Linked DNA regions of Homo sapiens: region 2 is linked to region 1. The links come from fine-mapping of genetic effects on gene expression. Tissue or cell type: whole blood. Region 1 holds a variant in brackets; the other region holds the start of a gene. All regions are shown on one strand. Distances are from middle to middle.

Evidence for each region. PIP is the estimated chance that this variant, and not a neighbour inherited with it, causes the effect.
Region 2: it holds the start of CCNDBP1, and the variant in region 1 is fine-mapped to the expression of CCNDBP1 in whole blood (TOPMed, PIP above 0.99).

The regions. Positions count from the first base shown.
Region 1 is chr15:44,004,074-44,012,337 of GRCh38, reverse strand. The region is part of intron 1 of FRMD5 (FERM domain containing 5); the gene reads left to right. Among named protein-coding and RNA genes, the nearest start is that of WDR76, 180 kb to the right of the region's middle. The variant T/C (reference allele first, on the strand shown) is at 3,612.
Region 2 is chr15:43,181,766-43,189,765 of GRCh38, reverse strand. CCNDBP1 (cyclin D1 binding protein 1) reads right to left here and starts at 4,363. Exons shown (of 11, transcript NM_012142.5): 1 at 4,159-4,363; 2 at 3,887-3,946; 3 at 3,533-3,612; 4 at 486-567. The coding sequence starts at 4,267. TMEM62 (transmembrane protein 62) reads right to left here. Exons shown (of 14, transcript NM_024956.4): 14 at 4,622-5,506. The coding sequence ends at 5,180. LOC124903478 (a long non-coding RNA gene) reads left to right here and starts at 3,879. Exons shown (of 2, transcript XR_007064604.1): 1 at 3,879-3,997. RefSeq lists an enhancer at 3,758-3,857 and silencers at 4,028-4,117, 4,338-4,637.

The DNA of each region.
Region 1 (8,264 bases):
TCTGCAGAGTGTTTAGAAAAGTTTAGAGTCTCTGTGATAGTCAGGAAGACTTTGGAAGTGTCATTTATTCAGTGGTGCACTTACAGTCAGCCCTCTCTATCCGCAGTCCATTTCACTTGTCTTTGGGATATCTTTGCTTGAGAAACAAAATGTGAACAAGCAGTCACCCTTTTAGGAATCTAGGATTTCTTAGGGAGATTTATTAAGTCAATATTTGTCAGTATCTGCTGAATCCTTAAAATGAAGGTCTTTAGAAATTTGCACATAGCAGTGAAAGTGAACAGATGGTGAGTTCAGGAAGGAAAAAGAAGAGTCAAGCAGTAAAGACAGATGGACACCAACAAATATGAATTGAATAGCCCATTTGTTCCCTCTTTAGCTGTTGCACTTGAAACCTCTGATTTCTGATCCCACCAAAAGTCTAGTGAAAAATGCTCCTCGATGTCTCGCTGGCATTTTTCTCAAGCCCCATCCTTTTTGACCTCTGGGTAGCATTTTCTGTTGTGACCTCCTACACCCTCTTGAGCCTCTTTCTTGCTTTGTGACAGTCTGCTGATTCTCAGATTACTGCTCTGATGATTCCTTCTTTGATGGCGTCATCAGGGTCTTTTTCTTATCCTAAATGCAAGTATTCCCTAAGGTTCTGCCCTTTACCCTTCTCTTTCCTCCTCCTTTGCTATCTCCCTTGATGATCTCATCCACTTTCATGGCATCAGCTCATTTGTATGCATAATAGTCTCACATCTATAGCTTCAGCAATCCAGACCTCTCCTCAGGGCTTCAGTCGCACATTTCCAACAGCCTGTCAGGTGGCTTCACTAACACTTCATTGTGTCCAGAACCACACATCATCTGTCCGACCTTCTTCTATTTCTCTCCTGGGCACCTGTTCTTGAATGACATCAGCATTCTCCAAGTCACCTTTGACTCTTCCCTCTTAGTGATCCCCACAACAGTTAGTTGCCTGGACCTGTTGATTTATATCCTAAACATCTGTTGGCTCTGTCTCTCAATTCCCATTGCTACAAACTTCACTACTACCGTATTAATTTCTCCAGAGAGCAGTTCTTATCGTCTTCAGTTCTCTACTTAAAACTTTTAAGGATGTAAAGTATTAGGAAGGAAGAAAGGGAGGGAGAGAGGAAGAAAAGAAGGAAGGGAAATTAAAAGAAAAAGAAAAGAAGCCTACTTAGCTGGGCATCCAAGGCCCTAACCTTCTTTCCTTCTTTCCTTAATCCACCAAGCAGAAGCAACAAGACCCCACTGCCACTAGCCAAATGTTCTGTCTCTTCTAAATTATCTGTACCTCTTTTCCACCTGCATTCCAGTTATTAGTGTTCATATTTTATCTCTAGTATTAGAGATCATGGACTCTTCTCATCTTGTTCACCCTAGTTCTCTCATCGTGCCCAGTGCTATGCTTTACACATAGTAGGTACCCACTGAAGCATTTTTTTTTTAACGTTGAGTAATGAAGTTTGAACAACTTCTGCCCACAGTTAGGGCTCTTTTGCCCAGCATAAAAGCTATATGGAAGAGTTCCCTGTTGTATTCATGTTTGTTTAACTTCCTTTCTGTTTTCTGTGCTTCAAGTAATCCATTCCATTGTCAAGAATATCATTTGTAGGTCTGGTTTAGAGAAGAGGTTCTTGAGGCCAGGCATGGTAGCTCACGCCTATAATCCCAGCACTTTGGGAGGCCAAGGCAGCTGGATCACTTGAGGTCAGGAGTTTGATACCAGCCTGGCCAACATGGTGAAACCCTGTCTCTACTAAAAATACAAAAATTAGCCAGTTATTAATTAGCCAGCTACTCAGGAGGCCGAAGCAGGAAAATGGCTTGAACTCAGGAGATGGAGGTTGCAGTGAGCTGAGATCGTGCCACTGCACTCCAGCTTGGGTGATAGAGCAAGACTCTGTCTAAAAAAAAAAAAAAAAGAAAAGGAAAAAAGATTGAGAAGAGATTCTTGGAAGGCTTCATCTCTGAGGTTAGTCATCACTGTAATCCTAGAGAGCTTCTGGTAACTGATTGTTTCTGGGTAATTCACTGTATTCCATAACCACTTGGGTTTTCTGCTGTGTGTAAAGTGGAGACAGAAGGCAACTTGCTTTCCTCTTGAGTATTTCTGGTAATTCATTGCCAAGCCATCCATGGCAGAAAGTTCCCTCAGCAGAATAGATGCAGCCATTCCAGAGATGGAATCTGTCCTCAACAATAGCCTGATCAATCTTAGTGGATAATTCCCTTATAAATAGAAATGATTCTTTATGGCCAGCATAATGCAGAAATTGGATAATAAAAATGTTTAAACCCCTTTGAAGGTCAGGGTATGATGTTAGGGAAGAGTAGCCTCTGTGCTCTGTCTAATATACTCAGGTTCCAAAAAGATGCAGTAGAGATCCACAGTGTTTACTCCTGGGCAGAATTCTTATTTGAATTTCTGTCTCCATTCTTACTTTTATAAGCTGAGTTGGACAGCCAAACAGGGAACTTTAAGGGTAATAAATATTACCTTTTCCCCTTAAGCCTGGGACCTGGAGCAAGCTCTTAGCAGCCTGTTCTCTGGGCCTTTCCTCTTAGTACCTAGAAGTACACAGCACCCCAAAGCCCCCAGGAAACCTATGCCTCAAAAAAACTCCATAAAAGTGGATTTTTTTTTCAAACACAGTCTCACTCTGTCACTTAGGCTAGAGTGCAGTGGCACAATCACGGCTCACCGCAGCCTCGACTTCCCAGGCTCAAGCAATTCTCCCACCTCAGCCAGCTGAGTAGCTGGGACTACAGGTGTGTGCCACCATGCCTAGCTAATTTTTTGTATTTTGTAGAGGCAGAGTCTCTCCATGTTGCCCATGCTGGTCTCACACTCCTGGGATCAAGCAATCATCCTGCCTCAGCCTCCCAAAGTGCTGGGATTAGAGGCATGAGCCACTGCACCCAGCCACATGTTACTTTAAAAATGTACAGAAAGACAAATGTCTTTTGCATCTTTAAGATTTCTTTTTCACTCCTACAAAGGTTCCCCCCAGCCATGTTTAGTGATAACTGCATTGAGCAAGTCTTATTACCTCTCTGACTCATTATCAGTCATATGAGCTACTGTGACCCAACCCTTAGAAAGCTGGGCAAAGAAGAGATAGTGTGAGCTGAGGCAATAAATTAGTGATTTGTTCATCCATTCTTTATTCATTTCCTTATTTTTATTTGTTCAACATTTATTATTTACTACTTGGTAGGAACTAAGATAAGATGATGGGACAGACATGGTTCCTGTCGTCGGGAAGCTAATTTTTTGTTATTGTTGTTTTTTGTTTTTGAGACGGAGTCTCCTCTGTCACCCAGGCTGGAGTGCAGTGGTGCAATCTCGGCTCACTGCAAGCTCCGCCTCCCGGGTTCATGCCATTCTCCTGCCTCAGCCTCCCCAGTAGCTGGGACTACAGGCGCCTGCCACCACACCTGGCATATTTTTCGGATTTTTAGTAGAGACAGGGTTTCACCGTGTTAGCCAGGATGGTGTCGATCTTCTGACCTGGTGATCTGCCTGCCTCAGCCTCCCAAAGTGCTGGGATTACAGGTGTGAGCCACTGCGCCTGGCCTGGGAAGCTAATTTTTAA[T/C]GGAGGAACTCTACAAGTTTAATGCTGTGATTCTTAACTTATTTTAGGTCAGAGAATCCTTTGAAAATCTGATGCAAGTATTAGCTTCCACAATGAAAATACATTTACACAAAATTTTACATACAAAAATCTTTGGTGCACCACATGTTAAAAAAGCCTGTGGCCGGGCGCGGTGGTTCATGCCTGTAATCCCAGCACTTTGAGATGCTGAGGCAGGCAGATCACTTGAGGTCAGGAGTTCAAGACCAGCCTGGCCATCATGAGGAAACCACATCTCTACTAAAAATACAAAAAAAATAGCCAGGTGTGATGGCTCACAACTATAGTCCCAGCTACTTGGGAGGCTGAGGCACAAGAATCTCTTGAACCCAGGAGGCAGAGATTGCAGTGAGCTGAGATGGTGCCACTATACTCCAGCCTGGGCAACAGAGCAAGACTCTGTCTCAAAAAAATAATAAAATAAAGCCTTCTACATGAAATAAAGGCTTCTAGAAATAAAGCCTTACAGGCTCATGCCTGTAATCCCAGCACTTCAGAAAAATGAGGCAGGAGTGTCACCTGAGTCCAGGAGTTTGAGACCAGCCTGGGCAACATAGGGAGACCTCATCTCTACAAAAAAAAAAAAAAAAAAAAAAAATTGCCGATTGTCCCCACCTACTCAGTAGGCTGAAGTGAGAGAATCACTAGAGCCCAGGATGTTAAGGCTGCAGTGAGCCATGATCATCCCACTGCACTCTAGCCACAACAACAGAGCAAGACCCCATCTCTTTAAAAAAAATTAGCAGCCAGGCGCAGTGGCTCACGCCTGTGATCCCAGTACTTTGGGAGGCCAAGGCGGGTGGATCACCTGAGGTCGGGAATTCCAGACCAGCCTGACCAACATGGAGAAACCCCGTCTCTACTGAAAATACAAAATTAGCCGGGGTGGTGGCACATGCCTATAATCCCAGCTACTTGGGAGGCTGAGGCAGGAGAATCACTTGAACCCGGGAGATGGAGGTTGCGGTGAGCCAAGATCACGCCATTGCACTCCAGCCTGGGCAACAAGAGCGAAACTCTGTCTCAAAAAAAAAAAAAAAAAAAAAAAAATTAGTTAATTAATTAAAAAAATTAGATTTTAAAAATTCAAAAAATTAAAAGATAAAAATATCTGGCCTTGTAGATACTAGGAAAATGCAAAGTATGTTAGGATGTTAATGTCCATTTTGATCAGCAGACAGAGAACTTGAGGGATTAAAAACATTGTTCTCAAAACAGTCAAGTTTGTCAAATGTGTACATTAACTCCAAATGAAATTCTAGGCCCTCACAGTATCATTAAAAGCAGAGGTTTATATATATGTAGGCATACCTTGGAGATATTGCAGAATCAGTTCCAGACCACCGCAATAAAGTGGATAGTGCAATAAAGCAAGTCACAGATTTTTTGGTTTCCCAGTGCATATAAAAGTTATGTTTCACTATACTGTAGTCTGTCAAGTGTGTAATAGCATTATGGCTGGAAAAAAACATTTATATATTTTAATTTAAAAATGCTTTGTTGCTAAAAAAAAAAATGGTAACAATTACCTGAGCCTTCAGCAAGTTAAAATCTTTTGGCTGGTGGAAGGTCCTGCCTTGATGTTGACAGCTGCTGACTGGTCAGGGTGGTGGCTGCTGAAGGTGGCTGTGACAATTTCTTATAATAAGATAAGATAACCATGAAGTTTGGCACATCAGTGGACTCTTCCTTTTATGAAAGATTTCTCTGTAGCATGCAATGCTGTTTAACTGCATTTTACCCACAGTAGAACTTCTTTCAAAATTGGAGTCAATCTTCTCCAATCCTGCCACTGCTTTATCAACTAAGTTTATGGGATATTCTAAATCCTTTGTTGTCATTTCAACAATGTTCACAGCATCTTCACCAGGAGTAGTTTCCATCTCAAGAAACCACTTTCTCTGCTCATCCATAAGATCTTGAGATTGCGGCAATTCAGTCACATCTTCAGGTTCAACTTCTAATTCTAGTTTTCTTGCTATCTCTACCACATCTGCAGTTACTTCCTCCACTGACAGCTTGAAATCAAGGGTTGGAATCAACTTTTTCCAAACTCCTGTTAATGTTGATAATTTGACTTCTCCCCATGAGCCACAGATGTTCTTAATGGCATCTAGAATGATGGCATTCAGTTCTTCAATTTACTTTGCCTAGATCCATCAGAGGAATCACTATTCATGCAGCTATAGTCTTATGAAATGTATTTCTTAAAATAACACTTGAAAGTGCAAATTACTCCTTGATCCATGGGCTACCAACTGGATGTTAGCAAGCATGAAAACAACATTAATCTCCTGTACATCTCCATCAGATCTCTTTGGTAATCAGGTAGAGTGTCAGTGAGCAGTAATATTTTGAAAGGATTTTTTTTTCTTTTTGAGCAGCAGGTCTCAACAATGAACTGAAAATATTCTGTAAACCATGCTGTAAACAGATGTACTGTCACCCATGCTTTGTTGTTTCATTTATAGAGCACAGGCACAATATATTTAGCATAATTCTTAAAGATCCTGGGATTTTTAGAATGGTAAATGAGCATTGGGCCTCAGTTTAAAGTCACCAGCTGCATTATCCTTTAATCTGAGTCAGCCTGTCCTTTGAAGCTTTGAAGCCAGACGTTGACTTTACTCCATCTATGAAAGTCCTAGATGGCATCTTCTTCCAGTGGAAGGCTGTTTAATCTACATTGAAAATCTGTTGTAGCCACCTTCATAAGTGATCTCAGGTAGATCTTCTGGGTAACTTGCTGCAGCTTCTGTATCAGCACTTACTACTTCATCTTGCACTTTTATGTTATGGAGATGGTGATATGGTTTGAATGTGTGTCCCTGCCCAGATCTCATGTTGAAAGATAATCCCCAGTGCTGGAGGTAGGGCCTGGTGGGAAGTGATTGGATCTGGTGGGGGTGGCTTCTCATGAATGGTTTAGCATCATCCCCCTAGTGCTGTTCTTGGGATAAGAGTTATCATGAGATCTGGTTGTTTAAAAGTGTGTAGCACCTTCCCCTCACTCTTTTCCTCGTGCTCCGGCCATGTGAGATGCCTTGCTTCCCCTTTGCCTTCCACCATGATTGTAAGTTTCCTGAGGCCTCCCAAGAAATAGAAGCCGCTGTATTTCCTTTATAGCCTGCAGAACTGAGTCAATTAAACCTCTTTTCTTTGTAAATTACCCACTCTCAGATATTTCTTTTTTCTTTTTTTTTTTTTTTTTTTTTTGAGATGGAGTTTCACTCTTTTTGCCCAGGCTGGAGTGCAATGGCGTGATCTCGGCTCACTGCAGCCTCCACCTACCGGGTTCAAGTGATTCTCCTGCCTCAGCATCCCGAGTAGCTGGGATTACAGGCACATGCCACCATGCCCGGCTGATTTTGTAGAGACGGGGTTTCACCATGTTGGCCAGGCTGGTCTCGAACTCCTGACTTCAGATGATCTGCCTGCCTTGGCCTCGCAAAGTGCTGGATTACAGGCATGAGCCACCACACCCAGCCTCAGGTATTTCTTTATAGCAGTATGAGAGTGGACTTAATACAGATGGCTTCTTTCCTTAAACCTCATGAACCAACCTCTGCCAGCTTCAAACTTGTCTTGTGCAGCTTTCTTATCTCTCTCAGCCTTCACAGAATTGAGAGGTAAGGCCTTGCTCTGGATTTGGCTTTGATTAAAGGGAATGCTGTGTCTTGTGTGATCTTCTATCCAGACCACTAAAACTTTCTGCATATCAGCCTGAAGACTGTTTTACTTTCCTGTTATTCATGTGATCACTGGAGTAGCACTTTAAATTTCCTTCAAGAACTCTTCCTTTGCATTTACAAATTTGGCTATTTGGCTCAAGAAGCCTAGCTTTCAGTCTATCTCAGCTTTCAACCTGCTTTTCTCACTAAGCATAATCATTTTTAGCTTTTGATTTAAAGTTAAAGACATGTGACTTTTCCTCTTACTTGAACACTTACAGGCCATTGAAAGGTTATTAATTGGCTAATTTCAATATTGTTGTGTCTCAGGGTATAGGGAGGCCCAAAGAGAGGGACTGAGTTGGGGGAACAGCTGGTTGATGGAGCTGTGAGGACACATAAAACATTTGTTAAGTTTGCCATCTTCTATGGGCATGGCTTATGGTGCCCCAAAGCAAGTATAGTAGTAACATTAAGGATCACAGATCACTGTAAGAAAAAATAATATTAATGGAAAACTTTGAAATATTGCAAGATTTAACAAAGTGTGACACAGAGACATGAAGTGTGCATGTGCTATTGGAAAAATGGTGCTAGTAGACTTGCTGGATGCCAGGTTGCCACAAACCTTCAATTTATTAAAACAAAAACAAAAACAAAAACATAGTATCTGTGAGTCACAATAAAGTGAAGCACAATAAAATGAGGTATGCTTGTACTGATATGTACACACATAGGTATACATACATGTTAAATAAAAACTATGGCATTTTCTCTGGAAGTTTGATTTAACATTCATTTGAAGTACCTTGGCTCACTGGTGTGGGTGTGTTACTAAATTTCTTGTAAGGACACATTCCTCTTGGAGAGAATGCTGGTTTGAAAAATAAATATGAGAGCTATTGGTCCAAATTGCTATTATAGATTAAAAATCAAATTGTTT
Region 2 (8,000 bases), 820 kb after region 1:
AGTTTAAGCCACTTGAGTAACCCTGAAGATCCATGACATGTATTCAGTTATAATTTTGGCATGATTATAATCAATGCATGATTCTACAGGCAGGGCTGGAGGCCATTTAACCTATGCAGATGTTCAGAAATAGGGTGAGATATAACATGGGTGGAGGAAAGTAAGGATGGCCTGAGCCTGCATATGGGGCTGAGAGCCAGCCAGTATCTGTGGTGTTAAAACGGGTTGAAGAGGGAGAAGGCTGTGAGAATTAAAAGCCTTATGAGTCAGGCAAGGCAGGGGAGATGGGAAGTCATAGGAACAAAGCATCTGTATCTTAGAATAATGGCTTGTTTATATAAGTCACTTACATTACAAAATTATCCTTCACTGTATTTTATGGGAGAAAGTTACATGTTCAAGTTGGGTAAAGGTAAAAGTCACAAGACATAATCCACAATATTAGCAAAGATCTACACGATAAATGCAACACTTATGTGGCTTACCCTGATCCTTTGGAAGCAAATAGTACACTGCAATAAATGCCTTGATGGCAGCATGGACTTGTTCACAGAACTTCTGGGTTTCCTATGAAAAAGGAAACAGATTAGATCAAAGTGGTCAACCCTTCTGCTGTGGAATAGAGCAGATATTTCTTTTCTTTTTCTTTTCTTTCTTTTTCTTTTTTTTTTTTTTTTTTTTTTTTTTTGAGACAGAGTCTCACTCTGTCACCCAGGCTGGAGTGCAATGGCGCAATCTTGGCTCACTGCAACCTCCACCTCCCAGGTTCAAGCAGTTCTCCTGCCTCAGCCTCCCAAGTAGCTGGGATTACAGGCACCCGCCACCACACCCAGCTAATTTTTTGTATTTTTAGTAGAGATGGGGTTTTGCCACACTGGCCACACTGGTCTCGAACTCCTGACCTCAGGTGATCCACCTCCCTTGGCCTCCCAAAGTGCTGAGATTACAGGTGTAAGCCACTGCACCCGGCCTAGGGCAGATATTTCTACAGCATCATCAAACATTTTCTGAAGTCCTGGTATGAAGGCAGGCCTACTATACTCATCACATACCAGGGAGGAGTTAGCTATATAGTAGATATTGGGCTGACAACTCAATAAACCATTAAGAAACAGCAGGAAAAAACTTATTCCTGATACTCTGTATCCCAAGATATTCATGATATCTTAGACCAGGAGCTGGCAAACTGTGGTCCTCAGGCCAAGTCAGGCCCCACTGCCTGTTTTTGGAAATGAAGTGTATTGGGACACAGCCATACTCACTGGTTTTAATGTCTGTAGTTGTGTTTGCTCTATAAGGGCAGAGTTGGGTAGTTGGTTACAAAATCTAAAATATTTACTAACTGGCCCTTTACAGAAAAGAGAGGGAGGGAGAGAGACAGACAGACCAACTGACAGACCATGGTTATTAAACCATTAACCAGGTCTCTCTCTTTTTTTAACAGAATCAGAATATGTAACTAAAGGTAACTAGCATGGACTCGACAATGCTCCATGTTAACTATTTTCCTTCTAGGTGGTCACTGGCTTTCTCATCTTCCTTGTCCTCAATTTTCTGTTAAATTCTAAGTCAATACTATACAAATGTGGTCCAGGTTGGAGCCAGTCTACAAACTGTTTGTGACCAGTCAGGGATGAGATAAGCAGTGACTGAGAGTGTTTAGAAACTTTTATGGCAATTTGACATTTATTCAACATCCGAGCACATAATTTTATTAAAGTATCATTCCATACAGATTGGAATTTAAAAAACAACAACAACAACAAAAAAAAACCAACAACCACCCATCTTTTAGTAGGACTAAAGTGGTGAGATCTCAAGAAGGCAATGATGATTCATGTGTATGTATGTGTGTATATACACACATATATACATATATGTATTTATTTGAATATATGTATATACTTGAATATTTGTATATATTTCAAATAAATCCAAATTCTAACTTTTCATCTATGAGTGAAACTACTGTCCTGAGCATGTATAGAAAATCAGTTCTATGCTGCCTCCTTGTGGTATCTTACTTGCAGTGAGTTTTAGCAGCAAGTCCTAAGTGCATTTGAAAGAAAGGGGTTAGCAGATAAGAAAAATAAGGTAATATTAACTACTCTTTTTGAAATAAGTATTTTCCATGAATCTTTTGAAGTGCTCTCATACAATTCATCTCTTGTTTCCTCATCACAAATCTCAAAGGTAGGCCAGGCACGGTGGCTCACACCTGTAATCCCAACACTGTGGGAGGCCAAGGCAGGCGGATCACTTGAGGTCAGGAGTTCGAGACTAGCCTGCCCAACATGGTGAAACCCCGTCTCAACTAAAAATACAAAAATTAGCCAGGCGTGGTGACAGGTGCCTGTAATCCCAGCTACTCGAGAGGCTGAGGCAGGAGAACTGCTTGAACCCGGTAGGCAGAGGATGCAGTGAGCCCAGACTGTGCCACTGCACTCCAGCCTGAGTGACAGAGAGAGACTCTGTCTCAAAAAAAAAAAAAAAATCTCAAAGGTATGTAGGAGGAGAGAGTTTATCACTGTAGGTACATGCAGCAGAAGATATTTATATCCTTTCCAAACACCTATATATGTAGACTGAAAAATTAAAACAATTGACTATGAAAATCAAATAAGGCAATGAATATGCCATTTTAAAAGAATCTTACTCCTATATTAAGCATACACAACTCTAGAAAAACTGAGCATAGAGCATACGTGGTCATAGCCAACATGTTTACTTTCATTAGTTTTATAATAAAGGAATATTTAAAATGCATAAATCTTTGTTCTAGCAATTCTACTTCCGGGAATTTTTTCTACCAATATACACACATACACAGAATTAGGTAATTCATCACGACACTGTTTGCAGTAATTCTAAGTTGGAAGGTCCAGAACAGTGTTTATGTATCATTTGTGTAAAAAGAAGCTGACACATACAGATAAATGTATATGAATGTATATATGCACAGAATATACGTGGAATAATGCAAAAGGAACTGGGGGAGACAAAAATGAGAAAGTGGGTGGAAAGGTAAACTTAACACACTTTGATATCTGTTGAATTTTGTACTATCTACATATGTTACTGATTAAATATAAAAAATAATATAAAAAGGGTATTATGCAGTATAACAGAATAGGTAGCTTAGACATCAGATAGACCTTGATTTAAATTCTAGCCCCCCTGCTTTTTTTTAAATCTTAAGCTGAGCTTCTGAGCCTCCTTGCTCATCTGTCAGATGGCCATCAAGTATGTGAAAACACCCAGCAAATAAAAAGTGCTTAAAAAATTATCAGAAGGGAAACAACCAGGATAAACTTCAGACTGAACCAATATTTATAAGACCTGCCTACTCCGCGCCAGGAACTGCACTTGGCAATTCGGTCTTCACAACAATCCTGTGAAGTAAAAACGGTAACCTCACTGGACAGATGAAGAAAAGAAATCTCCTGGCGTGCGTGCAAAAGGTGGAAAGAAAATTAGAGGATTCCTAAGGTGTAACTCGGCAGCCCAAGGATTCCACGAAAGTGAAGCCCACCTGTGGAGACGGCAGTGGAAGCTGAGAGAAGACTATGGTCAGAGTCGTGGCTTCCCTTGACACAGTCACAGCTGCCTCATCTGGGGGGTGGCCGAAGAGGAGGCAGGTGCCAATACGTTAGTGCTGCACGGACTTGGAAGACTTCCCTTACCGACCGAGACTTCTCAAAAACACTTCCCGAATGTCGAGGTTAGAATTCTATTTCACCCTCTCAGGTGCTGAGGTGGGTAAGGTACCTCACAGAAAGGATGCAGCGGGGGAGAGCAGTCCCCTCCGTGGGGGACAGCGGGAGGAAAAGGGGTCGGGACGCTGGAGGAACTGAGGCAAGGGGAGCCCGGAAGGAGGCGCACTCACTGAGTCTTCTCCAGAACATCTCTCGATTAAACTCCTCGGTGGTCTCCTGGGCTTCGCCGACTTGTGGGTGTGGCGTGTGGGGGCCGAACGGTGGCGAATGGAAAAGCTGAGGTAAGCGGAGCCACCTCCCTCGCCCAAGCCCGGCTCCCCGCCGCCGCCCCAGCCCGCCCTCTCCGCGACCCCGAGCCCGGCCTCTCCCCGACCCCGAGCCCGGCCTCTCCCCGACCCCGAGCCCGCCCCTGCCGTCGCCCGTTCTAACTCCGTCAGCTCACCCCGCACTCGAGGCAGGAGCAACCGCAGCTCCTCCGCCAAGTGCCGGAGCTGCTCCAAAGGCGAAGCCAGGGTGGGGACTGCGGCTGCAGGTGCAGTTGCGCTCGCCATCTCAGTCGCTTGCCGAAGGCCGCAAACACAGGCCTCCGCTGCCACTGCCGGAGCCGCACTGCGACAGCCGCTCCACTTCCGGGCCACAGCGTCAAGGGCTCGTTTCCGTCAACAAGCCGTCCAGCCCCGTCCCAGAGGCCCTGCCCTGCCTCCTCCCGCCACGAGGCCCGGCCCCGCCCGAGGTCCAGCACCACCCATCCCGTTATCAGAGACCAGGCCTGGCCCCGCCTCCTCCCGCCCCGCCCTGTCCCCTGAGGTACAGCACCAACCATCCCACTCTCAGAGGCCAGGACAGGCCACGCCTTCTCTTGCCCCTTAGGCCAGGCTACACAAGCAAGCCTCAGGCTCACCGTCTTTCTTATTCATCATTCATTCATTTATTTGATTAGTTGAAAACACTTCCGACTAAGGAAGCAGAGAGCCCACAATCCTGTGGGAAAACAGGCCTGGGAACTAATATCTCAGGGGTAGTGAGGGTCGGGCCCAGATCCTCAAAGGTTCCCTGCCCCTGAAATTGCACCTTTGACAGCTGCTGAATTCCAAGCACAGCGGTAAGTGCTTTACATGGGGTAACCCTAAAAAACACACTGGGCCTCAGACACTCCCGTACACACACCCAACCTCTACCCTGTGGATGTCCTAGATAAGGGTTTTCTCTTCACAAAGGTAAATCAACTCTTTGCCTCCTTAGGGAGGGAAGGAATAAAGGCATTATTTTTGAGACTTTTCTGCAGTCCATTCTGCAGGTATCAGTAGTGGGTAATCCCTCCAACGTCCAGGACTCCAAACGAGCAGCTGCTCCCTAAAGCTCACCCACCAATCCTGGCCCTCCACCTGCTACTGGGGTAGAGGCCTGGGCTACAGACACAGAGGCTGGGCTTCTGCCCAGCTGCCAGTGGTGAGACATGGCCTTCAGGAGCTCAGGTGGCTTTTTAACTGCACCATGAAGATTCCAAACTTGGTGGAGTTCAGTGTCCACACATAACGAATGAGAACAGGTGTCAGCAGTGTCAACCAGGTCCGCAAAGGGGAGAATAAAAAAGCTAGGGTGCCGTATGTTGCATAAAGAAAGTAGCAGGAATAAACCTGCCAGATGTACAGCAGTAGCATAAGTAGGTGAACAGGCATAATTTTCAAGTATTTTCTTTGATGGAGATGAGACCTGAAGTTGTGACCAAAGCACCGCTGCAGCAAGCTCCAACACATGTAAGCCATCAAGGGGATGTTAAAAAACGCCAGCTGGAAAAGAACAGAACCATAGCTTACTCCCAAGTCCTTGGAAGAGTTTGGTCTTAATAATGCATTATTAGTGGATCCTAAGACTATGCTGCTATCTGTCTTGGCGTTAGCTAATTTACTTCAAGCACAGTTGCTTATAACACAACAGCTGACTTGTGGCTAGTTGTGTATTTGCCCATGTCCTTTTATTCATCTTAGAGGCAGGTATCATTTAATTTATGCTGAAGTCCCAACTTGTAGTACAGTATCATATACACAGTTAATACCCAATGGTGTTAAGCTGGAATTGAACTGAGTAAATGTATACACACACATACAACAACCCCTCTTTTTTGGTGGAGTGAGGGGAGGACTTGGCTATCAGTATTTTTTTTCTTACCTCCATTTTTGTTTGAGGTAGCATGATAAGTACTGGAATATAAATTAGAGTATCTAAATTATAATCCAAGTTGAGCTGCTGTATGATTCATTCATTTAACAAATATTTATTGAGCACCCATTATGTAGCAGGCATGAGCTAGGCTCCAAGTTGGGGACACAATGGCAAACAAGTTAGAAAAGGTCCGTCATAGAGCTTACATTCTAACAGGGAGAAGACAGACAAAAAAAAAAACCAAAAAATATAATTACAGATCGTGATTAGTTCAATGAAGGAAAGAACTGGGTCATGAGAAGGTAACTGGGAGAAAGGCTCTCAGAGGCCAGAAGGACAAGAATGAATCAGCGGAGGGAAGTGCATTCTAGGCAGAAGGAACAAATGAAAAGCCCAGAGGTGGGAGAGGTCTTGGCCTCTTTAAGGAAGTGCATGCAGAGCATGAGCCAGGTGGAAATTGGGGCAGTCGGCAGGACCCAGATCACTGCTCTGCTTCAAAGCATTTCAAGCTGAAAAGTAAGTGAGCTGATTGTAAAGTTTTTAAAAGAGCACACTGGATGCTCTGTATTAAGCTGAGAGTAAGGAGGCAAGAATATCAGGGAGAAGACCCAGGCAAGAAATAATTACAACTTAGATTAGGAAAACAGAAATGGAGAGAAGTGGATGGATTCAAGATATGCATTGGAAGCAGATCAAATAAGGTAGAGCTTGCTGGTGAAATAGATACAGGGTATGAAGGAAAGGGAATAATTGAGGATACATCTTGGAGAAATCAGGTGAATGGTGGAGTCATTTATTAAAACTGGAAAAACAGAGAGGAACAGGTTTGGGGTGGAAATAATGTTCCTATCAGAGAGACATCACATGAAGTTGAGATGCCTGTTAGACATCTGTGGCCATTGGATATAGAGGCACTTGAAGTGCAGAGAAGAGGTCTAGATCAGAGATATAGATTTGGGATTCATGGGTCTGGATGATACATAAAATCCATTATTAGTGTACTATTTATTAGAATATGAATGTAAACATTTACAAAGGAAAAAACCCTGCCTTTTGGTAAGGCTCAGGATTCATTTGGTATGAGAGAGCTCCTTAGAGACAGCCTCCATCAACATAATAGAAAACTGCAATGAGGCTGGGTGCAGTGGCTCACGCCTGTAATCCCAGCACTTTGGGAGGCCGAGACGGGCGGATCACCTGAGGTCAGGAGTTCGAGACCATCCTGGCCAACACAGTGAAACCCTGTCTCTACTAAAAATACAAAAATTAGCCGGGCATGGTGGCAGGCACCTGTAACCCCAGCTACATGGGAGGCTGAGGCAGGAGAATCACTTGAATTAGGGAGGCAGAGGTTGCAGTGAGCCGAGACGATGCCATTGCACTCCAGCCTGGACGACAAGATCGAGACTCCATCTCAAAAAAAAAAAAAAAAAGAAAAGAAAAGAAAAGAAAACTGAAATGAACCCAGGACCTACTCATGTATATAATGCTGCTATGCAGAGAATATTCTGGACTTGGGTCAGTGTTTGCTAGGCAGAAGTCTTTCCTACTTGGCTGTCTCTAATCCTGTTGGATCATGTTCTACTGCCCTGTTAGAAGGCCATGAACTTATTTTGAATGTTTTTGGATCTCTTCCAAAACTTCAAATTTTGGTCCACTAACTCCATTAGGTGAGTAAAATAAAGAAACTGTTAGATAAATACTTTTCAAATCTGTTTATGTAGTTTTTCTATGGATCAAGGTTCTTTGTGTGTTTATTTTAAAGGAATCAAATGTAAACCTAATACATCAGTTTGTTTCCTAAACAAGTACATTGCTAGGAAAGCCCAGGTCTGGTTTTTGAATAATGCAGTTTCCACTGAATAACTGACCCATTTTTTTAATGTGTCTATTTTTTAGTTTCCTCCCTCTAAAATATTTTCCTTCTTCATCATCATAATCAGTTTTGGTTTACTCAGAAATCTAAAACTTTTTCTACCATAATCCCTTGTTTCATTTTTTTGTCAATGAAAAAGCACAGTGAAACAAAAACAACAAAAACTTCTTTCACCTCTTATAAACACTTCATGACAAAAATGTATTTTAGGCTAGGCATGGTGGCTCACGCCTATAATCCTAGCA